Homo sapiens: one gene and its partners. The protein of the gene in region 3 purifies or fractionates together with the protein of the main gene of each other region. This does not show direct contact. Each region holds a gene or a part of one and is shown on either strand. Other genes may lie near its edges.

Evidence for each region.
Region 1: the proteins of ZHX1-C8orf76 (region 3) and BORA purify together in Homo sapiens (affinity purification with mass spectrometry; one large-scale study listed by BioGRID and IntAct). This does not show direct contact.
Region 2: the proteins of ZHX1-C8orf76 (region 3) and PANK4 purify together in Homo sapiens (affinity purification with mass spectrometry; one large-scale study listed by BioGRID and IntAct). This does not show direct contact.
Region 4: the proteins of ZHX1-C8orf76 (region 3) and ATG4C purify together in Homo sapiens (affinity purification with mass spectrometry; one large-scale study listed by BioGRID and IntAct). This does not show direct contact.

What each region holds. Positions count from the first base shown.
Region 1 is NC_000013.11:72,736,218-72,742,380, forward strand, and holds part of BORA (protein aurora borealis), read left to right. Parts: intron 1-1,744; coding exon 1,745-1,826; intron 1,827-6,163. UniProt on the Homo sapiens protein: Required for the activation of AURKA at the onset of mitosis.
Region 2 is NC_000001.11:2,514,027-2,520,189, forward strand, and holds part of PANK4 (4'-phosphopantetheine phosphatase), read right to left. Parts: intron 5,929-6,163; coding exon 5,775-5,928; intron 5,299-5,774; coding exon 5,117-5,298; intron 4,572-5,116; coding exon 4,490-4,571; intron 4,239-4,489; coding exon 4,138-4,238; intron 3,868-4,137; coding exon of another isoform or gene 3,856-3,867; exon of another isoform or gene 2,052-3,855; intron 1,692-2,051; coding exon 1,536-1,691; intron 441-1,535; coding exon 328-440; intron 64-327; coding exon 1-63. UniProt on the Homo sapiens protein: Phosphatase which shows a preference for 4'-phosphopantetheine and its oxidatively damaged forms (sulfonate or S-sulfonate), providing strong indirect evidence that the phosphatase activity pre-empts damage in the coenzyme A (CoA) pathway.
Region 3 is NC_000008.11:123,224,555-123,230,813, reverse strand, and holds the end of ZHX1-C8orf76 (zinc fingers and homeoboxes protein 1), read left to right. Parts: intron 1-4,181; coding exon 4,182-4,341; 3' UTR 4,342-4,623; downstream 4,624-6,259. Other genes in the region: uncharacterized protein C8orf76, read left to right, coding at 4,182-4,314.
Region 4 is NC_000001.11:62,786,285-62,792,447, reverse strand, and holds part of ATG4C (cysteine protease ATG4C), read right to left. Parts: intron 1-6,163. UniProt on the Homo sapiens protein: Cysteine protease that plays a key role in autophagy by mediating both proteolytic activation and delipidation of ATG8 family proteins.

The DNA of each region.
Region 1 (6,163 bases), on a different chromosome or scaffold from region 3:
ATTTTAAAGAGAAACCCAGCAGGTAAACTTAAGAAAATTTGTTTCTTTTCAATATATATTTTTGAAAATAGAAGAAACATATACATATAGTAAAAACAAAAAGAAAAAATATAAAATAAAAAGCCTCCTGTTTCCCCATCCCACTTCATGAAGGTAATGACTATAACATTTCTTATGTGTACTTTCAGATTAATTTTACTTATTTAATAGCATATGTCCTTAAAATATTTTCGACAAATAGGATTATCATTCTCATACTATTATCGTTCTCATACTGCATCCTCCTTTTTTTGCTTCATGATTTTTCTTAGAAATTTTTGATAACCAGCATATACAGATTTTTACATTCTCTTAGCAACAGCATAGTTACCTAGCCCCTGTTGACAGATGTTTAAATTGTGTTTATTATTTTTCTGTCACAAATAATGCTGCAGTGATTTGTATATATATCTTTATATTCTTGAAATGGACCTAGTAAGTCAGAGGCTTTGTGAATTTTCAGTTTTGGTAGATTTTACCATATTGCCCTCCTAAAAGGTTATACCAGTTTATACTCCTGATTACAGTGTGACACTGCTTGATTTTCCATATCTCCAATATTGATTATTATCAGAATTCTTAATTTGTTCTACTCCTATTACTTTAAAAATGACTTTTTTTTTTTGTATTTCTTTACTTTTGAGTGAACTTATACATCACTTTGTAAGTTTATAGGTCCTTTAATTTTTTTTCTGGTAATTGTCTATATCTGCCCCAGTCCACCTTTAAAAAAAAAAAAAAAAAGAATCTTTTCCTCTTAGATTCATGGGTAATTTAGTTAAGAAAATTAGCTCTTTGTCATATGTATAGCAAAATATGAAGAAAATATGTTTGGTTACTTGCAAAACCTAGGGAAGGGAAAACACTGTGGTAGAAATGAAAGAGGAAAGAAAAGTATACAAATGCTCTATCTCATTTGAATATACTGGCCAGTAGTGTGCTGGTGAATGTTTAACAACTTGCTCTCTGGTCGTGGAAGGAGTACGATTTATAGCGATTCCTGCTATCCATAGTGTAAGTACTCCAACCATGGCCAGTTTCAAGCTACTGATGTGACATCACTGAATGGGAAAGGAAGAATAGTGGCACACCATTATATGTAGGAATTCCACCATACAGATACAAAATACATTATTAACCTCAAGAGCATAGACATTGATAAATATATAAAATAATTAGCAAGTGGTGAGTTTTGGATATTTGTTACCTTTATTTTTAATATATTTAATTGTAAGTTTACATAATTTTATTTTTAATATTGGTTTTAACAACTGGTGCACAGAATTCTTGAAAATTTAATAATCAGATCTTGAGAGCCAGAACAAACAAGCCAGCTTCAGTGCCGTCATTCATACTGGCCTACTTGCATGTCTCTGTCTTAATATATTCCTTCCCTTTTCATCCTTTTTTTTGTAACCCCATCAAAAAAACCTGGGAAAGAAATTTAAAATACTTTGTCTATGATTAATCCTCTTAGTTTAGTTTGCAAGTTTCAAATTTAACTGGTTGATTTGAAGTATTAAGATTCCTCTTTATATATACTTTAAATTTCTTCCATTTTTCCTTTGGTCATTTGTATTAAAATTTTTGCATACAGTTATAAAGTTAGTATATGACATGTTTAATAATTACTTGGAAAAACACAGGTACCGTCTCACATTTTGGGTGGAATTTATGCCTAATTGTATGACTTTAATTTTCCTAGTTTTTCACTAAAGATGTCATCGTACCCTCTCCTTGGACTGATCATGAAGGGAAACAGCTTTCACAATGTCATTCCAGTAAATGTGAGTGTACTAAAAATGATATGAATAAAAATCAAAAAAGTCGGTGAATATAAAGCAACATATCATGAAGTGCCAGTATATCTGCTTTGTAAGAAGCTTGCTTTAAAATTCTGGATAACATAGAATTTAACTCCTTTTAGGGTTAGAATTAAAAATTTGACTAAAATTTATTGAATTGTTTTTTAGCTGTTATACTCTGAATTTAACTTTTTCTTCATGACTATTGTGAATGTCAGTTATAATGATGGTTATAGAGGATCCATAGATGAAGAAATAGTTGGTATTGAATATAGAGATGAGTTGTTAATGACTTTAGCAGTATTTTGAAGGTTAATATTTTAGATAAAACCGTAAATTGTGTTGCCTTTTGCTAATTTGCTGATTTCTTATAAAGGTAAAGAAAGGATGAAGACTTAATATGACCTCTGGGACAGTGTATTATTGCTGAGTATCTGCAAAATTAATAAGGAAATTAAAGGGCAAGCCAGTAAGCTAACAATTATCTTTCTACCTCCAGGCAATGGTTGTCATATATTTGTTCTCACTGCTCTTTGGGTTGTGAGGCAGTATTCAGGAATCACTTGTATATATGCATCCCTCATCACAGTGGAATTACACTGTCTATTGTAGTATACCTTAATTATGCTCTCAGTATAAGAGGGAATGTTTGTTCCATTCTTTATCAAAAAACACAACATAATAATACAACAATAATAGGTAAGCTGGGTTAGTACTTTCTCTATGCCAGGACAGTGCTAAGTGCTTTCAGTAATTTCTTATAACTCATATGAAGTAGGTGTAATTATTGGCCCCATTTTATAGGTAAGAAAACCTAGTTTTAGAAAGATGAGAGCATTTGTCCAGGGTTACAGAGATGATAAAAGTGGGAAAACCTGAATTCAAAATTCTCAAATCAGATGCTGTATTCTTAGCCATTATGAATTAGTGGTAGCACGCAATAGTAGATGGAAATCTGGATTGTAAAACCTCCTACTTTTATAAACCAGAGAGGTGACCTTGATCAAATTATTCTCTTTGTACCTCAGTCTTTTATTTGTGAAATAAAAGGATTGAACTAGAGTTGTCCATTTACATCCCCCCAGCTCTAAAATTGTGTGTCCAAGGTGGCATTCTCATAGATACTAGTTTTTCACCCCCAGATTCTTTACTGTTGGATTTTTTCAACAGATGAATCAACCTTCTTAAGTGATTTTTTAAATAACATTTTTGTATTCCAAGTATCCTGTTTTAGTTCAAGTGATGCAGGATCAAGAAGATGCTTAAAAACACTTTAGACTCTTTGAAATCTAATCAAGCCCACGATAACAGTGCAGTGGTTAATAGGATAGGCTCCAGAGCTGTGCTGTTTACTGTGTTGTTGGGAGACAATTCTCCATAGGCCTCACATTTCTGCACACCTTTCATGAAGTGGCATGGACAAGTTCTGTTCCAAACTATCTTTTCTAGGGTGTTTGTCTTGGAAGGTAGAGATAGTGTGTCCCACCAGAGCAGAGGGTAAGTTTGTTTTGCTGTCCAGTATAGTAAAGATGATGTCTCCCTCTGGAGCAGATTTGTTTGCAGTCTCTCTTAAAAGAATGGGATTTCCTAAGCTTGGGGTTCCTTAGCTATGGTGAAAACCCATTGTGTGTCCACCAGCCACCTGGGTATTTTAATTTAGAATCTTTTAAGATAGAGAGCACTCCTCCCATGATTAGGAGAGACACAAGATGGAAATAAAAATTTTATTACTTACAAGTCCTAGGGGTACACAGCATACCTGAACACCACACAGGGAGGTCAGGAAGAGAGAGAAAGGGACCCATGGGCCAACGCCTTTATTGGGTCCAGGGCATTATCCAAACAGAGTTTTAGTTGGTGGGTTTAAAGCAAGCAGGCATGCATTGAGGAGGTCACACAGTGACTGAGAGATAGTCACTGTGGCATGTCTGTGTAGTCCATGTGCGGTATGAGGGTTGGGGGGTCAGTCAGGTAGGCCATATGTAGATGGCCCATAGGGAGGTGGTTACCAGGAGGAATTTATATAAGGCAGATATCTGGATCAACCACATTGAGGTATAGAACTGGAAACTGTGTCGGGTGAATGAGCCCTGCTTTTTGTATGAGAAAGTCCAGCTTGTATGCAGAATTATAAGAATTCACTGCACTGGACTGTTTCATGTCATCTTCTTGGCACTTGGGAGCAAAGGGAATTAATAGGAATGTTAAGTTCATGCTGCCTGCTGTGCTGAAAATAATAAAGTCCTTTATCTCTGCCCCCAGAAGCCTCATGTCTTTAGCCAGCACCAATGGAACTTTGACATGTTCACCTGTTAGTTGCCAAGTTGGGTAGAATCTTAGACCCTTTATAGTTCTTGACAGTTGTGGCCACGTGTGACTATTTAAATTTAAAGTTAAATTTAAAAATGGAGTTCCCCATTCACAATATTCACATTTCAGGTGCTCAATAGCCATGTGGATATCGAGTAGTATAGATAGAGAACATTCCCATCATCACAGAAAATGTTCTATTGGATGCTACTTTAGGGCCAAGGTTGGCAGCCCTTAAGTGTAAAGGATTCAATAATAAATACTTAAGCCTTTACTGACCACACAACCTCTGTTGGAACCACTCCACTCTACTGCTGTACCACAAAAGTAGCCGCTGACAATATGTAAATGAATGTGAGTGTGTACCAGTAAAACTGTATTTAAAAAAATAGGTGAAAGGCCAGATTTGCACCATGAACAATAGTTTGCTGACCCTTACTCTAGTGTAATATTATCTAGGTTTGAATTGTACCCAGTAAAGCTCACTAGCTGTGTGACTTTAGATGAGTTACTTAGCTTTTCTGTGCCTCAGTTTCCTTATCTATAAAATGATGGTTATTGTGGTACCTCTAAGATAATGTACCTAGCACATGGTGTTTGGTTATCTACCTAAAGATTAACAAATAAAATGGTGAATGAGGGGAAAAGTGGTTTTGTTTATACATGTTAGCTTGTGCTGGTAGCATTTACTATTATTAATATTTATGCAGCAAGGTGCTTCAGTGCATATCCTCATGTGTTTTTATTTATGGACTTGAGTGAGAATTTCCCTGGGATATATACGCAGGTAGAGGATTTCTGAGTTATAGAATATATCGTTACCTAATCTGACTACACAGTATTAGAGTGCTCTCTAGAATATCTGCACAGTCTGCACAGCCCCAGCAGTCCCTAGGGTTCCTGTGTCCCAGCATCCCTGCCTGCCCTTGGCATTATCCAGCTTTTACATCTTTGCCTTTCCTATAGGTTATTTGACATTCTAAATGATTGTTTCAGTTTTCTTTTTGTCTTCATAGACTAATGACCTTTTACATTTCATAGAAAATGTCTATTTGTAATTCATTGATATGTTTCAATTGGAGTTGCTAACCTTTTTTTTCCTGTTAATTTCTAAGATACCTTACATATTGTGGTTATATTGGTCTTAAACATTTCAAATGTTATCTCCCATTCTGTCATATGTATGTTACTCTTTGTTCTTGATATCCTGGGTTGCATAGAAATTTTTATTTTGGTGCAGTCAAATCCATCGATTTTTTTTTTTCCTCATTTGATTGTGGTCTTAAACTTGTCTAAGCCCTTCTAGGGGAAGCAACCAAAACACTTGGAATAGAGTTGAAAAGTGATGTGATAATGTTGCTGTAGGTGTCTTTCTGGTCTGAGGAAGGCAAGGAAGGCATGCTGGCAGAAGATAAAATTTAAGCTGAGATTTGAGTTAGACTCTTGGAATGCAGGGGAGAAAAGGCAGGGAGGAGAGAGCATAAGATAATACCTAGAGATGAGAGAGATACCTGTTTCTTGTTTGTTTGTTTTAGGTACTCAAATAATATTTAATTAGATGGCAACCATGCTAGAGAAATAGACATGGTTTTGAAAGGCTTTGTAAGCCATTGAGGTGTTTGGATTTTATCCTAAAGACTATTGCAGGGTTTTAGGCAGAGAGAGTATTGATTACATCTGCCTTATAGAAGGTCACTCTGCATGCAGTGACAAAGTCATCTGCATCCAAAATTTTCTTTATTTACCCGTTTTGATAGTATTTCACAGGGAAATTTAATTTATTCAGCAACCCACTTACCCATTTTAAAATTTAGAATTGTTAGGTTACTACACTCTATTTTGTCATTTTATTTTAGAATTCCTGAGTTGTTTCTGGTTTTGGGGGGAGGGGGGGTTTGTTTGGTCCCCTTGCTTTTTCTTCCTTTTATCTTACTTATATTAGTCTTTTTGAGATGGTTTTGGTTTTTGAGTTTTTTTAATCTGGTGATTTTTCAATTTATAAAACTTTA
Region 2 (6,163 bases), on a different chromosome or scaffold from region 3:
AACTCGTTCAGACAGTGCTCCCTGGTGTCCAGCAGGCTGCGCACGGTCAGGGTCCCATAGGCGCTGGGGACAGACACGGCAGAGGGCGCTGAGCAGGGCAGGCCGAACACCCGCCCGTCTGCCATCCTCGGCTGTGCCACGGACGTCCTCAGGAGCCCGGCAGTGCAAACGCTGCTTGAGGCGGGGTCCAAGGGGGCTGTGCCGCCAGGGCCCACACCCACCCCCAGCGAGCTGGGGTCCGAATGCCAACATCACGGCACTTTCTCAGAGGTGCAGGGGCCCTCTGGATGGAAGAGGTGGCCACACACCGGGGTGCTGGGCACTTACAAGGGCTGCTGCCTCAGGGTCTGAAGCTTGTTCCAGTACTTCTGCCGGAACTTCTCCGCCCTCTCGGCTGCATCCACAGAGTCTGGCTGGCTCGCCACTGCGCGCTTCACTACCTGCCAGCGACAGAAGGAGGGGGTTAGTCAAGCGCTGGCCCTGCTGCTTGCGAATCCCCACGTGACAGCAGGGGGCTCGGGGAAGGGTGGGGGTCGGCCGTGGGGGACTGTCTGGGGCAGGGTGGGGGCGGCTGTAGGAGGCCTGGTGCAGGGTGGGAGCCGGCTGTCGGGGGCTGTTTGGGGCAGGGTGGGGGCTAGCTATGGGGGGCTTCCCGGGGCAGGGTCAGGGCCTGCTGTGGGGGACTCGGGCAGGGTGGGGGCTGCCTGGGCTGTGGTCAGGGCAGTTTCTACTGGAACAGGAAAGGCTGACGGTGACAGTTCACGGTCACCCGAGGCTTCCCTTTGCCATTCGCCCCTCCCAGTTGCCCTGGGAGGCAGGAGCAGGAGTGACCTTGGTCCCTCACCCCCCAGGAAACCCGAGGCCAAGACCCACGTCCTCAGACTCGAGCCCCCATCCTGTGCCGGGGACGAGGGGCTCTGGGCACTCAGAGCTCACTCCGGGTCCTGGGCAGGGCTGGGACTCCTCCCTCAGGACAAACCCTGGCACGACCCGGCCTCTCCGAGGGCTTCGTGAAGAGTGCGTGTTGCTACCGGGGCTCCCTGGCCCCGAGCTGAGCTCCTGAGGGGCAGCGTGGCCCAGGGCCTGGCATTTGCTCCACGGGACCAGCCCAGCCTTGGAGAAGGTGGGACGCAGGAGTCCCAAGGTGGCCTCGCCGGGAGCTTGCTGGGGCTGAGTCTCACCCCACCCCCAGAGTCAGGGTCCCACAATGCCTCCCGCACCTCAGTCACACCTCAAAAGAGCAGAGACGTCTCCTAAATTGCTTTTTGAAGGAATGTGCTAGCTAGCAGAACTATCAGCTGCCCTTAGAAGCAACGTGCCTCGCAGACGCCACGTCCTCACTGACCCACCAGGTGGCCAGGAGCGGTATTTTTGCCTGAGAAACCAAAATCGCCCCCTCACTCAGACGCAGATCAAGGGGTTTCTGGACAACACTGGCCTGTCCCCCTTCGCCACCTTGGCTTTGCCCCCGGAGCCTTGGAAGGTTAACCCGGCTGCGGCCTTGGAATCGTCTAGACGGCACCCGGAGCCCTCACCCCGTCCAGGGCCTCCTCAAAGCAGGTGAGCCAGTATTTTCGGGCCAGAGCGTCATCGGTGAGGTCCACCGTGTCGGGCACGTAGGAGGGCGGGTCCAGGAGGAGCGGCAGGTCAACCAGTGGCCTCTCCAGCCGGTCCATTTCCAGCAAGTCAAACTGGAAGACAGGCAGTGGCAGGGTGGAAACGTCACCATGGTTCAGAACGACCCAAGCCACACTCAGAAGCTTCCACTCTCTCTCTAAGAAGGGAGATGTACTGCCTTCTTCCGCCACGTCTCTGGGCCACAGACGAGACCCCCACTGGGCCCCCTCAGCTGCCCGGCGGCCTGAGCCGGATACCTTGACTTACCCCCTGGTTTGACACTGGGGTTGCGTCTGCTCCCACCACACGCCTCCTGCCCCCAGCACCTCCCCGCTGCAGCCACACCTCCCCAATCACCGCTGCAGTCACCCTCCCATCACCCCTCCTCCACCATCCCTATAGTAACTCCCTCCCCCATCACCACCTCCCTGCAGTCACCCCTCCCTGTCACCCCTACAGTTTCACCTCCTCCCGTGACCCCTGCAGTCACACTGTTCCCACCTCTGGTCCTCCAGGTGGCCGTGTCTGCACACAGAGGTTTGGGGTTCTGTCCTCACTAAGCACCAGGCAGTGTTCCACTCCGTGCCGGGCAGGGAGTCCCCACGCCCCACATGCACCCTTCTTCCTCCATGGCTGCCGGGCCTCCCAGCACGTTCTGTCCATGAAGGACTATGGCAGGGCCAGGCCATTATGCACCCAGGGCACCCCGGGGCCACCTGCACCCAGCACAGGCGCGCTCACGGGCCCTGCTGGCTTTTTCTACCTTATGCCGGGAGGAAGTGAACTGAACTGAGCCGACGCACACATCAGTACTCGGCTCTCTGCACGCTCACCGCAGCAGCCGCTGCTCTGGGACCAGAGGGGCTATGAGGGGAACTGTGTAGCTGACCGCCTCTTCCCACCCTCCGGTGGCTACCCCACAGGTCACATGCTGGCCCTCTGCCCTTCTCCACTGGGGCACCCCTGCTGGCAACCCCTGGGGCTGGAGAAGCAGCCTCTGGGTGGGCAGGGACCTCCAGAGCAAAGGGGACGCCTTCCAGGTGGGAAGCCCATGCCGGGCAGAAGCTCCACGTGGAAAAAGCCAGTGACTTCCCAAAGCCAGTGCAGAAGGCGGCAGGAGCCCCACCTTAACTACCACGGACCACAGCCGGGATCGCCTGGTGCTGCCTTGCCAGGTCGCAGGCTCCTTCTATCCTGACAAATGGGTTCAAATCTTCGCTTTGACTTTTTTGGACAATATAAACTGAAATAAATGACTCCATCTCTCTGCATGTCAGTTTGATCCTCAGTAAGGTGGGGGCCCCTCCTGCCTGGCAGGGCTGTGCCACTGGTGGGGTACCAAATAGGTAACAAGCGCCTCCTGAACGGGGCCCCCGAAGCACTGTGGCCGTCCACGCAGTCACTCCAGGTTACAGTCCAGGACATTTGGCAAATTATGCACACTTGGCAAATCAGAAACTGAGGCTGGAAGACACCAAGCCCCTCTGCCCAACAGCAGGGCAAAAGCTGAGAGCCTGGGGCTCTGCCAGGCCCCCAGAGCCTCGCCCCCACTCCCCTGCCTAGTGCTGGCGGTGGGAAAGGCAGACCAGGGCTGCGGCCAGTGTGGTGCGTCTGTGCGAGGCCGTGGCCTGGTGTGAACTGCAGGACCCACACAAAAGGGAGGCGCCCTCCTGAGAAGCCAAAACTCAACAAGTCGCGGTCTTGAAAATACTGACACTGAACCCCATGTCTACAAATGACAAGCAACTTCCTGCCAACAATGCCAGCGGCCTGTCCTGAGGGGTCCGACTAGCTTTGTGCGTGACCTCAGGTTAACTGCTCACAGCTACAGAAGGAATGAGCCCCGCGGGGGGGCACGGTCGAGGACCCTGACAGCCTGTGACACGGGGCGGTTCCTGCCATGTGGGGCTGTGCTGGGGGCATCCCGTGGCTGACGCAGGTCCTGGCGGGGGACCCTTCCGGAGCAGCTCCAACTCGGCAGACATGGGGTGCGTCTCCTAGCCCGCCAGTGCCACCCAGCTCAGGCCAGGGCAAACCCACTGGGGATCCAAGGAATGAGCCGGGACACCCCGAGGAGAGCAGACTGTAACCGACAGACCATCAGCCACAGTGCGCGGCAGTGTGCGGCAGAGCGCGCAGTCCTAGGCAGGGCCCTGGGTGGCTCCTGCGGTTTCGGGTTTCAACTCCAAAGTGGACGGGCCTTCTGGCGTGGGGAGAGGTCCCCGTCACCCCTGAACTTTAGCAATCTCTCTGCAAACAAGAAGGCCGGATCACACAGACTCCGTAATTCCTGCTGAATGTTTCCAAAATACGAAAGCACCCAATGAGGGAGATGGGAAAGCAAGCCACAGTGTCCTTCTCTTGCCCCTAGTTATACCCCAGGTCCATGGGAGGATTCGCCATGGGCAGAGGCGCCTTTCAGCCGGGACAGCCACAAGAGGCTTCGCTCAGGGACAGGCGAGGTGAGTGCGGCATAGGCTGCTCCCCTGGGGCCCGGGGCGGCCAGAGCCCACTACTCACAGTGCCACTCCGCGCCCGCTGCGCCGGGCCGAGCTCGGGTGATGCACTCATCAGCCCGGAGCTGCCTGCATAGTTCTCTCCCCAGCTGTACTGGTTAGGATCTGGAAAGCAAGAAGCCAGGTCACTTGTGTTAACCTTGCCCTTGATTCAAAAGCAGGAGAGTGGAGGAGGAAAGGGTATAAAATCGCTTATTAACTAAATTGTTAAAATGTTAGACATGCCTGCTGCTGTCACTTTCTGAGGACTCACGCTCCCCACCCCACCTCCACCCTGGGCCGCCCTGGCCTGGAGCACAGGCCCAGGCCACAGCTGAGGCCCCACGCTGCTCAGGGGCGCCAGCACCGCGACTCACTGTCCTGCTCAGCTCCTTTCAGGAACGCTCCGATGGCTCCCAGGTAGCCTTCGTGCCTCAGAAACAGCGCCTGCACTTCCCCCTGCCGTGGCCAAAGCACACGTGCTGCTGTTGGCCCCACACAACACCCGGTGCCTCCGCAAACCAGCTCAACGTGCGCGGGCCTCGCACCGCGCGGCCCAAACCCTCGAAGAGGCGCCATGGCACCCACGGCATACTTGCCAGTGGAATCGCGCCTGGCACCAGAGGGCGGGCTGCTGTTTGAAGAAAGCTAAGGGTGAGATAGCTTCTCCCATGCAGCGAGTCCCTGGCCCACAAGTCTCTGCGTCAGGCATGTGGGTGGGCGTGCCTCTGCGGGGGCAGGGGCACCCTGACCCCAGCGCAGATCAGCAGGCCTGCCTGGAGCTCTCTAGAATGCTCATCACTGGTGATGTACTCAAACTCAGGTGGCCACGGTGCCACAAAATGTAGGCTGCCCAGAATCAGTCAGAAGGGAGGGGTGCTGGGCTTCTTGGCCCCCACCCTCCAGGCCTCCCTGGGGGTGCTGCGGTGTCTAACCAGCATGACTGATTGGGAAGATCCTGGGGGGTCTGCGTTAGAGGCTGGGGAGGGCGGCGCATCCGTTACCTTGGAGAAGAAGTTGATGCTATAGGTGATGGTGCGCATGGTCACGGGGTGGCCCCGGATAAAGAAGCCTCCAAAGTACACGCGGTCCAGGCTGTGCAGCCGTGCGTGGAGGCAGGCCAGCTGCCCAATGTCGTTGCTGATCATGTGCAGCAGGCTCTTCGCCATGTCTTCTTTGGAGAACTCTGAGGAAGGGAAGGAAAAGGCACTCATCTCCAAGTACAGCAAGTGCACGACATGAGAGCGAGCAGGAGGGGAGGGGGAGAGAGAGCTGAGTGGGAGGGGAGGGGGAGAGAGAGCTGAGTGGGAGGGGAGGGGGAGAGAGAGCTGAGTGGGGGAACTGGAGCCCAAGTGCGGGAGGCTGCGTGTGATGTGTGAATCATTCCTGGACGGATTAAGCTTTGTTTTGAAGGAGGAAAAAACCCAATCAGGAAACTATTTTTTCTTCCAAAACCAAGACCGTGGCGTTTATCTGCCGACGTTCTGAGCAGTGGGCCTGAGCTGCAGCGACTCGGCAGGAAGAGGTTACAGGGCTGACACCCAAGACCCCGACTCTCCAGGGAGCAGTTGTGGGAAAGCAATGGTGGGGGAAGCTCCTGTCCGTGAGACCCCAAGTGTCCCCACCATCCTGCTCTCTGGCGGCAGAGGCCGGGGTGAGCACCTTGGTCGGCGGTGGCCGACTTCCCGAAGCTGCTGGCGATGAGGTTCCCGCTCAGCCCGAGAGTCTGGTGGGCGCCGCCGTAGACGTCCCGCACCAGCATGTCCACATTGCTGTGCTGGCCCCTCGAGGCCAGGTGCAGGAGCTCGTCAAACTTCTGCAGGACACGGCGAGGGGGCGGGTGAGGCGCCAGGAGCTGCTGGAATCCCCACGACCCCAGAAACCAAGCCCATGGCAGGAGGCACGCGCGGGCAGGGGGTAAATGGGCCCTCATCGCGTGGGACCAAAGGCAGGAGGCGGCAAGCGGGACCCTCGGGCCACCCAGCCAGGATAGAAGCTCTGGGTTGCTGGGACACCCAACCCTCAGGGCGCAAAGAGTGAAGCCGCAGAGG
Region 3 (6,259 bases):
GCTGGGCATGGTGGCACGTGCCTGTAGTCCCAGCTACTCAGGAGGCTGAGGCAGGGGAATCGCTGAACCCGGGAGGCGGAGGTTGCAGTGAGCTGAGATCGTGCCACTGCACTCCAGCCTGGCGACAGGGCAAGACTCCGTCTCAAAAAAAAAAAAAAGAGTTGACCAGGCATGGTGGTGCGTGCCTGTAGTCCCAGTTACTCAGGAGGCTGAGATGGAATGATTGCTTGAGCCTGGGAGGCCAAGGCTGCAGTGAGCTGAGATCACACCACAGCACTCCAGCCTAGGCAACAGAATGAAACTCTCAGAAACAAAAAGGAATATAACCTGTGTCATTGTCCAAGATGGAATGTTAAGATTAGAAAACATTAAAAAATTAGGAAAATAAAAATGTATAAAACACTGAAAAAGGGAGAAGACATATTTTAAAGAAGGAATTTTCTGTTCGTATATTCCACAGAAATCTACTAAAGAAGAAAATTAGCTCTTGTATTTGAATTGCTGATAATGGGAGTAGATGATGCTTAATTCATTCTACAGAGAATTCCCATGGTTTGTGCCTAGGGATACCAAGTACTTTTTATCTTTAAAGTATGAGTTTGAGGGAAGGGTAGGGAGAATACACTTGACCAGTTCTATAAATGATGAGAGAAGAAGCAGACTCTCTCATGTTTCAAATGGTACCAAAGAATATACAGATTTTTTAACTCAGGAGGATTCAAGAAATATTAACAGTGAGGCTTACTGAGAAGTGGTATCTATTTGGCAAATTTTATTTTATTATTATTATTTTTTTTTTGAGACGGAGTTGCTCTTATTGCCCAGGCTGGAGTGCAGTGGTGTGATCTCCGCTCACTGCAACGTCTGTCTCCAGGTTCAAGCAATTCCCCTGCCTCAGCCTCCTGAGTAGCTGGGATTACAGCTGTGCACCACCACACCCGGCTAATTTTTGTATTTTTAGTAGAGACAGGGTTTCACCATGTTGGCCAGGCTGGTCTCGAACTCCTGACCTCAGGTGATCCACCCGCCTCGGCTTCCCAGAGTGCTGGGATTACAGGAGTGAGCTACCGTTCCCAGCTATTTGGCAAATTTTAAAATGTATTCAGTGGATGCTTGTTTAGATTGACCATGTCACTAATTCAGAGGCACATTGAATGACAACCGTGTGCCAGACATGTGCTTGGTGCTAGGATCACAAAGATCATTTAAAAAGCAGTCCCTTATGCCCCTCACTCACTCAGAGAAATGGTATGTCTAGCCTGTAACTGCCAGCACAGGTGCTAAATAGTATATCAGTGCTGTGACCAACGTCAGGGAGCTGTTGGCGTGGCCAAAAGAAGGAAGCCTTTACAGAGGGGATGATGCCTCTGCTGAATGGTCCCTGTAGGAACCCTTGTCAGTTGACTGAGTGCTAGATGCTTTGTATACATTATTTCATTTTAATCCTCATGACTCTGGGATACCTATTGGGATCCCACTAGATGGATCAGGAAACTATTAAAATCATTCCCAAAGTGGTGCAACTGTGAAGTGCAGGGCCAGGATTTGGAGCTGGTCTCTGATTCCAGACCCTGTATTCTTTCAGCTTATCTTGCTCACTCCACGTTAATATTCCCCACGTGGGAAGAGGCATGCTAGGTAAAAAGAAGGCACCGCCCAGAGGGGCAGAGGATCCGTTCTAGAACAGTGTTGTCACATTGTCTGGTGGTAAGAGCAGCATTGGTGGTAAGGGCTCAAGGTAGGCTGTGGCCACAGTGCCAGGGTGGCAGAGGAAGTAGGAAGTAGGACTTTGGCGTCAGAACTGGTTTTGAAGAACTTAGTCAATTGCTGATGCTAAGTGGATGAACCTGAACTCTTGCAAGCGGTCTGACCTTGCACACATTCCTTAAACTCTGCTCTCTAGTTGCTTAATCTTGACAGATGGAGAAATGGGGAAAATGCCTGCTTCCTGGGGTTGTAGAATTAAAGTATTTAAAGTACTTATTGTCCTGCATGGTATGTAGTAGGCATTTGGTAAATGTTAGATTAGTACTTTTATTTTTGTTGTTTTTATTGTTAACACAAGATGTTTGGTGTCACAAGGGTTTGGTCTTTGTGCCGAAGGCCTGAAGAGTATTTGCAGGTTTTAAATACAGGAGCATGTGATAAGACCTGTGTGTGTGTGTGTGTTTTGGGTTTTGGTGTTTTTTTTTTTGAGACGGAGTTTCACTCTTGTTGCCCAGGTGGGAGTGCAATGGCGCGATCTCGGCTCACCGCAACCTCTGCTTCTCAGGTTCAAGCAATTCTCCTGCCTCAGCCTCCCGAGTAGCTGGGATTACAGGCATGCACCACCATGCCAGGCTAATTTTGTGTTTTTAGTAGAGATGGGATTTCTCCATGTTGGTCAGGCTGTCTCGAATTCCCGACCTCAGGTGATCCACTGGCCTCGGCCTCCCAAAGTGCTGGGATTACAGGCGTGAGCCACCGCGCCTGGCCAAAACCTGTGATTTAGAGAGCTCTGGTGACTGCGATGCTGGATTAGAAGGAGGAGCTAAGGACTAGAGGTTGTAGAGTAATTAGTGGAAGATGATGAGGGCCTGACCTAGGCTGGTACAGTGGTAATAAAAAAAAGAAATGGATGTCACTGCACGATAGAATAGACAGGACTTGGTGACCAGCGGAGTGTGTGGGAAGGTTGAGGGTGAGGAGACCGGAAGAGTCTCTGCAGAGTCTCTCGAGGATGCACAGGTGGATGGTGGTGCCTTCCGCTGAGATAGGACATCTGGGAGGATGAGCAGAGCCGATTTGGGGTGGAAGGCAATGATTTTAGGCTTGAAGTACCGAGTCGCGGGTGCCTGGAGTATATCCAGAGGGCAGAAAGCAAGTTACATCAAAGGGGTAACGAAGGTGAATGCTTCCCGAGGCCGGGTAGGTGATGTCAACAGGTCAGACTGAAGCAGACAGATGATCATTTTACCTGTGAGTCAGGTCAGGCTCCTTTCTGAAACGCCCGGATGGCTTCCCATTGCACTTACGTCAATTCCGCATTTCTTTCCATGGCCTGCAAGGTCTGATTTGAATTGGCCCTGCTTTTTTTTCCCACCTCATTTACTACACATTTTTCTCTCTGACTGTGTTCCAGCCACAGTGATCTTAGTGATTTTCAAGCATATCAAATTTGTTCCTGTGTCAGAGCCCCCTTCTCCCTGGCCAAGCCCTCGCCACCAGATGTTCTCCCACTGGTTCCTCATCAGGTAGCTCGTAGCTTGCCTGGTATCTCAAGGAAGCCTTCCTGCCTATACCGCCGCATCTGAAGAGGTTACTGTGTCCACCCTGTCTTGGGTTTTTTTCCATAGCACTTGTCACTACCTGAAATACTTATGTGCTATCTCCCTCCTTCCATTCATTCCATGAGGCCACAAGTGTGTTTTGCTCATCAGTATCTCTCATTGCCTAGCGTAGTGTTGGGCATGTTCCACAGCATGGAGAGCCAGTGCTTCTGGGCATTGCAGTAGGTACCAGTGAGAAAAAAGGGGAAAATCTGCATATTGAGTATTTATTAAAAAAAAAAAAAAAAAGGAGCCAAATGAGGAAGACAGGAGGAAGTTAAATGAGAGAGGAGACCAGCTATGATCATGACAGGGAAGTCAGTGGTAAGGTATCGCAGAGTGGTTGTCAGAGGGTCATCAAAGATTTGGCCCTGCTTGGGGTAATTGAAGTGTGCTAGCGAATCTAATTAGTCCTTGCGGTCAAGTTGCTGTGGGGTCAGCGAGATGGAAGGGTCACAGAACACTGACTTCAAAGGAGCAAATCCAGAGGGCCTGTGTGAGAGGAGTCTGATTGGGAGGCTCGTTCCTTTCACTCCAAATTACTTATCCTTTCAATCCCTTGACTTCCACAGGAAGCTCTTTTGAGGCCGGAAGCTCTTTTCAGGTGTTGCTCTCTGAAGATTTCTTTGAGCAGTTTTAGTCTTTATATTTTAGAAAAGATGAATCTCCAATGTAAAGTTGGGCAATTGATTCCAAGTCGGAAGCTTTAGGGATTGAAATGATAGTTCTAGTGAGGGTGGGTACCTGCTTTTTAACCTGGTGGGACTTGCAGCCGACTCAATACCTGGGCTTTCTGAACATTTCCTCGCGGCTTTCCTTTATCTGGAAGCGTTGGGACTTTTCGCCACGCATTGAGACTTTTCGGTTTTTCAGGCTTCTGCTTCAGTTTACCCAACCTCAGCAAACATCGTTTGCTTTGGAGAGGAACTTAAGGACTCAGCAGGAAATTGAAGATAAAATGAAAGGGTTCAGCTTCAAAGAAGACACTTTGCTGTTGATAGCTGAGGTGAGTGTATCCCTCGGGTTTATGTGAAACGAAGCATCATAGATATTTTCCCTGGCTCTGATAGCATTTTTTATAAAGCAGGGCCAAATTTAATCTACTGAAGGACTTGTCTCCCTCCTCTGTGTGCCTTTTGATCACTCAGCAATCACCAAGGCGGCCTCTTGATCGGCATTCCCCTGCAGCGTGCGGGACCGCAGGGGCTGTGTTTCATGTACTTGTCAGTGCTTGTTAGCACCTGCCTGCCTGAACATCATCAATGCCCAATAATTGTTTGTTTCAGTGCTGAATAAATGAATGAATGAATGCTTACATTTGTGTAGCAGTTCTATTTTTTTTCCTCCATTCATCATAACAGCTTGTGAAGTTGAGTAGAGCTAGAATTGAGGCTCAGAGAACTTGTGACTTGCCTGCGGTCAGATTTTCAGTGGGAGAGCTGGTCTGGAGCTTGTGTTTGCCAGCTGCAAGTCCATTTTATTCCTGCTCTACCCTGTTACTACTTTGATGGTTGCATAGAAATTCAAAGGTAATTTTTTTTAAACTAACATGTAAACCTTCATTAACTTTTTTTTTTTTTTGAGACAGAGTCTTGCTTTGTCTCCCAGGCTGGAGTGCAGTGGCACGATCTCGGCTCACTGCAACCTCTACCTCTTGGGTTCAAGCGATTCTCATGTCTCAGCCTCCCGAGTAGCTGGGATCACAGGCATGTGCCACCACGCCCTGCTAATTTTTGTATTTTTAGTAGAGACAGGGTTCACCATGTTGGCCAGTCTGTCTTGAACTCCTGGCCTCAAGCAATCTACCCACCTCGGCCTCCCAAAGTGCTGGGATTACAGGCCTGGGCCACCATGCCTGATCTCTTCCTTTTACTTCTGAGAGGCTACACTGGTTTGTTTTTCTCCTGTGTTTCTTAACGTTCCTCTGCCTCTTGGGACTCAGCTGGTTTCTTCTGTAGCGTAAGTAATGGCATGCTAAAGATTCCCTTGGCCTCTCTGTTTTCTACTTTTCTGTCACAGAAATCATCACCACACCCCTAGGTTCCATTGTCACCTCTGGGTTGATTACTCTCCAGTCTTTATCTCTAGTCTCATCTCTGGGACATGTGTCTCACATCAGATTAATTGCCTACTAGGTGGTTAACCTGGGATAATTATTGATTACTCTTCTGTCACTTCAAGTACAAAATGTCTAAAATGGAACTACTCATCAGAACACTTCCTGTAATCTCAGCACTTTGGGAGGCCAAGGTGGGTGGATCACTTGAGGTCAGGAGCTCAAGACCAGCCTGGCCAACATGGTGAAACCCCATCTCTACTAAAAATACAAAAAACTAGCCGGTTGAGGTGGCAGGCACCTGTAATCCCAGCTACTCGGGAGGCTAAGGCGGGAGAATTGCTTGAACCCGGGAGGTGGAGGTTGCAGTGAGCCGAGATTGTGTCACTGCACTACAGCCTGGGCAACAGAGGGAGACTCCATCTCAAAAAACAAAACACAAAAAAACACTTCTGATCAGTCTTTTAATTCTCCCAAGTTCCACATCCTCCAGGAAGCTTTTCCGGAATATTCTGCTCTGTGGTCATTTCTCCTTCCTCTGAGCTCAGATAGTGATTGCTTGAATAGATAGCTCTTTGGGCCCTAAGAAGACATAAGAATGTATCTTATGTTTTCAACTAGATACTAGGTTCCTTATAAGTAATAGTATGTTTTGAGCATCTTTGTATTCTTCACCATGCTCGATAAATCTGTTGGTTGGGTGGAAGAGTAGTTTCCTGTGTAGACAATGCATGTGATATACCAGTGGAGCTTTTTAAAAAGATGGAAAATGTCTGGGCCCTCGTTAGGATTGTAATTAGGATTATAATGTACATTTTGTTTTGTGCTTATTTTTATTTTTTAAAAGGTCTCATTCTGTTACTCAGGCTAGGCTGCAGTGCATAATCTTAGCTCA
Region 4 (6,163 bases), on a different chromosome or scaffold from region 3:
TTTAAAGACATACCTCCTAACCTCCCTATCCCCCAATCTTCTCTTTTCTACATTAAATGTCCCAATTCCTTCAACTGATCAGAAGACTGTCTATGAGTGGTAATGAGAACCTCAATCAGGGTACTGGTGAAAGGATTAGAAATGAGTAGATAAGGCCGGGCGTGGTGGCTCACACCTGTAATCCCAGCACTTTGGGAGGCCGAGGCGGGTGGATCACGAGGTCAGGAGTTCAAGACCATCCTGGCCAAGTTGGTGAAACCCTGTCTCTACTAAAAATACAAAAATTAGCCGGGCATGGTGGTGGGTGCCTGTAATCCCAGCTACTCAGGAGGCTGAGGCAGAGAACTGCTTGAACCCCGGAGGCAGAGGTTGCAGTGAGCCGAGATTGTGCCACTGTACGACAGCCTGAGCGACAAAGCAAGACTCCATCTTAAAAAAAAAGAAAAGAGTAGATAAAAGTAGCAAGTTGACATGGTAGACCGAGCAACATCATACAAATATATGGATGTGTATATGCCCACATACCAGAGAGGAGACTAAAGTGACTATGAGATTTCAGGTCTAATGTCTAGGAGCATAATGGTTCCATTAGCTGAAACAGGGAACCCAAGTAGAGAAGACTAAGGTGAAGATAGGAAATTCAGTTTAAGATACAGTGATTTTGAGGTATGTAATAAGTAAATATGAATGTTATCATGGTGCCTTTAAGAGATGACTGGGTAACTGGGGTTCTGCCCTCATAAATAAATTAATTCACTCATGGATTAATGGATTAACAGGTTATCAGAGGAGTGGAACTGGTGGCTTTACAAGAAGAGAAAGTGAGACTGGAGCTAGTGTGTTTAGCTCCTTCACCATGTGATGCCCTGCACCACCTCAGGACTCTGCAGAATCCCCACCAGCAAGAAGGCCCTCACCAAATGTAGCTCCTCAACCTTGGACTTTTCAGCTTTTGTTAACTATAAGGAATAAATTCCTTTTTTACATAAATTACCCAGTTTCAGTTATTCTGTTATAAGCAATGAAAGACAGACTACGACAATGGATAAGACCATTTCCAAGACCCATTATATTAGTTACTCTTGCCAAGAAAAAGGTGCATCCATATTACTGAAGCTAGTACTACATGTAATTTAAACACAAAATATCACATTTATTCATCAAGTATTTGAGTGGTTACTCCTACAAGGCACTGAGGGAGATACAATGAGCCATGAAACCCAGTATCTGCCCTCATTAATCTTACATTCTAATAAGCAAAATGGTTATAACTAACCATAAGGCTGAATGTGGTTATATCTCACAATAGAGATATAAAGTATCATAACTATTAAGAGACATATTTTCCCCCTTTCCAATGAGAATATTCACACATGAATAATATCACAGGGTAAAATACAGTCACAACAAGTATTCTTCAAATACAAAGAAGGACTTAACAAAAAACATAAATCTTTCCATTCTGGTTATAAATACAGGAAAACATTAGACCTATTACTTGGGAATTAGTTAAAGTACCCCCAACAATTATGTCTATTGTTAAAGATTAATGCTTGAATTGTATCATCAGTTAAAAGAAGAGCATTGTTTAAAATGTTCACAAACACAATTGTTTTGGTTTACAAATGGAATCACTTGATGTCACTTTTCTTGCACTCCTAATTTTAAATATCATTATAACTGAAAAAATAGAGCTACAAGTTTAGAGCTTACAAGTCTTAAAACTTAATATTCTCCAGCTGATATAACTGTTCTAGAGTTCTCTATAACTATATATTACAAAGTTTTAAATTATGTCACTTTAGTAGTTTTACAGATAACTGATTTTACAAAGAGTATATTAAAAAGTAATTTAGTAGGAACCTAACTATATTTTACATTCATAACATAATCACACAGAAAAAATAATTCAAATAACTTTGAACACCTATTTTGACTATATATACCTTTAGTGGGATATATTCTAAGAACATAAAATGGCAAAGAAATCTTTACTTGGTAAATCTGTTGCTGGAAGCGGTATCAGTCAGTCTAGTAATTCCAAAACTATTTTATGTGTGTTGTAGGATAGGTTAGATGAGTAAAAATAGTGATATAATTGAGAATCAGAATTCTCTCTTTGGGAAAACAGAGATATAAACAGGAATTGGAAGGAAGTGATGAGAACTCTGCAGTGTTGAATTTGAATTGAAGGTATCCTATGAACTCATGATTTCTTAAAAAATGTATATGTTGGCCGGGTACAGTGGCTCACGCCTGTAATCCCAGCACTTTGGGAGGCCGAGGCGGGTGGATTACCGGAGGTCCGGAGTTCGAGACCAGCCTGACAAACATGGAGAAACTCTGTCTCTACTAAAAATACAAAACTAGCTGGGTGTGGTGGCACATATCTGTGATCCCAGCTACTCGGGAGGCTGAGGCAGGAGAATCGCTTGAACCCAGGAGGCAGAGGTTGCGGTGAGCCAAGATCCGCCATTGCACTCCAGCCTGGGCAACAAGAGCAAGACACTGTCTCAAAAAAAAAAAAAGTGTATATGTGTGTCCATTTAAAGGGTCTAGAACCAATGACACCCCAGTAGCAAAGAGCATATTCAATACCCAGATCTTCATTTCTTTTATTTCTTTTTTTTTGAGACGGAGTCTCGCTCTGTCGCCCAGGCTGGAGTGCAGTGGCGCGAACTCGGATCACTCCAAGCTCCGCCTCCCGGGTTTACGCCATTCTCCTGCCTCAGCCTCCCTAGTAACTGGGACTACAGGCGCCCGCCACCACGCCCGGCTCATTTGTTTTTTTATTTTTTAGTAGAGATGGGGTTTCACCGTGTTAGCCAGGATGGTCCCGATCTCCTGACCTCATGATCCACCCGCCTCGGCCTCCCAAAGTGCTGGGATTACAGGCATGAGCCACCACGCCCGGCCCAGATCTTGGTTTCTAAGAATCATTTTCCACTAAAATAAACCAGGACTCTGTGGTAAAATGGCTGATTCCATGTATTGAGCAGGAAATTTACAAGGTGAGGCTGGAACATCTTATTGTGCAAATAGGAGTAAGAAAGTGCTCAAACACCAATGTGGACATATCCAAAGTTCATGGGAACCAGCTTGAAGGATCTACTACTGACCAGATTTGAGATAATTTCATCACCAAAAGGAATGATGGTAGCAAATTATAACGCACTGCATAGATTTTGAAAAAAAGGATACTTGGGTACATAGTGATACTAAAATAAAAAAGAGAAAGCTCTTATTTAGAGAAGAGAGCCAGCAAATACATGTAGGAATGACAGAAGTGGGAAATCACTATTTGGCAACCACCAATGCTTTTATCAATGGCTACTAAAATCACTGGATAGGAAAACAAAACCTGCAAAACAGAATATCCACATGACCTCAATTTATCACCCCTACAGATTACTAAATACAAAAGGGAAAACATACTTTCGGAATATAAAAATCTGGCTAAACTAAGTGATCAAACTTAATCACCAATAATGGAATAAACGATCATGTTAATCCTAATATGATTAAATGGAAAGTTCAAAACATCACCCATGTAATAGTAAAAAAAAGAAAAAAGAAAAAAAAAGAAAAACCCACAACTCTTCAATCTGAAACTCATTGTGAGGAAAAAATCAGATAAATCAATTTTGTGAGGCATTCTACCTGAAGACAAAAAAAGAAAGAAATGATAAAGACTGTTCTAGATAAAATAGACATATAAGTACTAAATACAATTAATGTCTTTAATTGGATTCGGTATTTTTGTAATGGTATAATGACATTACTGGGATATTTGGAAAAATCTAATTGTTGAATATGGACTGCATATTAGACAATATTATCATATCAAGGTTAAATTATTTGGATATGCTAATGGCATTATAGTTATATAAGAGAATGTGCTAGTTCTTAGGAGATGCATGATGAATTATTTGGGGGTAAAGTGTCACGTTGCCACCTTACTTTCAAATAGTTCAGCAAGAAAAAAAGGTGTGTGTGTGTGTGTGTGTGTGTGTGTGTATTTATAGAGAGAGAAACAGCACTTGTCTAACAGCAAGGAATGAGAGCAAAAGAGGCACTATGTTAACAACTAGTGAATCTAGGTAAAAGGATGTACAGGTATTTGTCATACTACCATTTCAATGTTTTTACAGGTTTGAAAGTAAAAAGAAAAAAATAAGGGAAAAAGTAGAAGTTAGGTTGATTTTAGAGCAGCTGATCAGACTTCATAAAGCCTAACTACTCTTCACCCTATTCAATAAGAGCTAAAAGCAAGTTCAAACTTCGAAAAGGTTTGGCTAAAAATAAAGGTAATAATCCTAACAAACAATAAGTAATCACAAACTAATCACCATAAGTTTTCTATCACAGCTGTAAACTACACATAATCTCAGAACTCTGTGAAAGATGTTATGTGCTGGTGTATCTGGGACAATAGTGAATAAGCAAAACTATTTTATATATTTTCTCCAAATCTAAATACCAAATAAATTTTTTTTCTCAAATTGAGTTTTATTAGTTACAAGGTATCCTAAAATTAAAATGGTGTCACAGGAGTCAAGATGATCTTGAACCCAGTATCACTATTATAATAATGATAATAAACACTTAAAATCTGTACCAAGTATTTTATTAACCTATGTATATATATCATTTCATTTAATTCTCACAACAATTCTATAAGGCTGGCACTATTATTATCCTCATCTTATAAATTTAAAAAAAAAAAGGCTTGGAAAAGCTGTATAACTTCTTCAAGGTCATACTGCTAGTATACAGCAAATAGAGACCATGAATCCAGGCAGTCTGACACCAAAGTCTCTTTGCTCTATACACTCTACCACTTTACTAAGAAATGTAAAATTTAAACAATAAACTATAAATCACTACTGTTTGGGTTCAATATCTATCAAAAATTACATGAATGAAGCATTTCAGAGAAAAATCACAAGTATGTATTTTTCCCTAATGCATGTATATTTATGTATGTACCAAATGAATGAAGTTAGAATTTAACCAGATGCCAGTTTACTACCAAATCTCAAGTGAAAATAAAGATGGCATGTAACTGCATTATTCAGTTACCTATTCATATACATGGTTTAATATATTACAGATAGATTCAAAACAGAGACCAACATATTTCCAGATGCTTTCATGTAGAACCCCACCCCTGCTCAATCAAGAAAAAATGATACCAAAAAAACCTATTTTAGGCATAGTATTACTCAAATATACAAAACTACAACAATGACACAAAAGGGTAAAAATAACTAAGAAATTAACCTTAAACACTGCTACCACAACAAAAAATACTAATAAACAAAGCATGTTTCCCAAACCTGGTCCTCTTTCGATGTTCTCTACCTCGGTGAAGGGTGCAACAATCCTTCCAGTTATATAAGCCAAAAACCTAAGATTAGCCCATGATATCTTCCTCTCCCTCACCTTCCATATCTAATCCATCGCCTAGTTCCACCTCCTGAACACCTCTGGAATCCATCTTACCACCACCACCTTGTCCAAAATACCATCTCTCAATTGGGCCACTCCAACAATCTTCTAACTGGCCTCTCCCCATCCCCACTCTTATCCCCTCTGTAATCAGTTCTTCCTCTGTGTAACATCAAGTCCTTTTTTAATAGCATTTACCACAGTTGTAACTTTAAATTTCTTTGACTATTTGATTTATGTCTGCCTCCTCTGTTAGTAAATTCTATGAGGGTAAACACCGTATTTACTCACTACTATACCACTGTGGCCTAGAAGAGTGTCTAGTTAATAAATAAATGCTAAATGATTGAATGCATGTCAAATATTACAATTTTACTTATATATAGTCCAAAAAATAAAAATAAAGTGCTTTATAAGGCTCACCAATTATTCTATATCACAGATTTTCACTTGTTTTTTTTTTTTTTGAGACAGGGTCCTAATTTCTACCTACCAATCCCTAACCACTATTTAAATTCCACATTAGATCTCATCTTCATGAAACATTCCCTAGTTATCTCTCTTCTCACCTTTAACATTCTAAAACACTCCCGTAAAATCTAATACATATTGACTATATTTTCTGCTTCTTGAAGGGAAAGTTTACATCTCATACATTCTGCTAGAGTATAAGCTCCCTAAGAGCAGGGACTTTTCTTGTTCACTCTATATC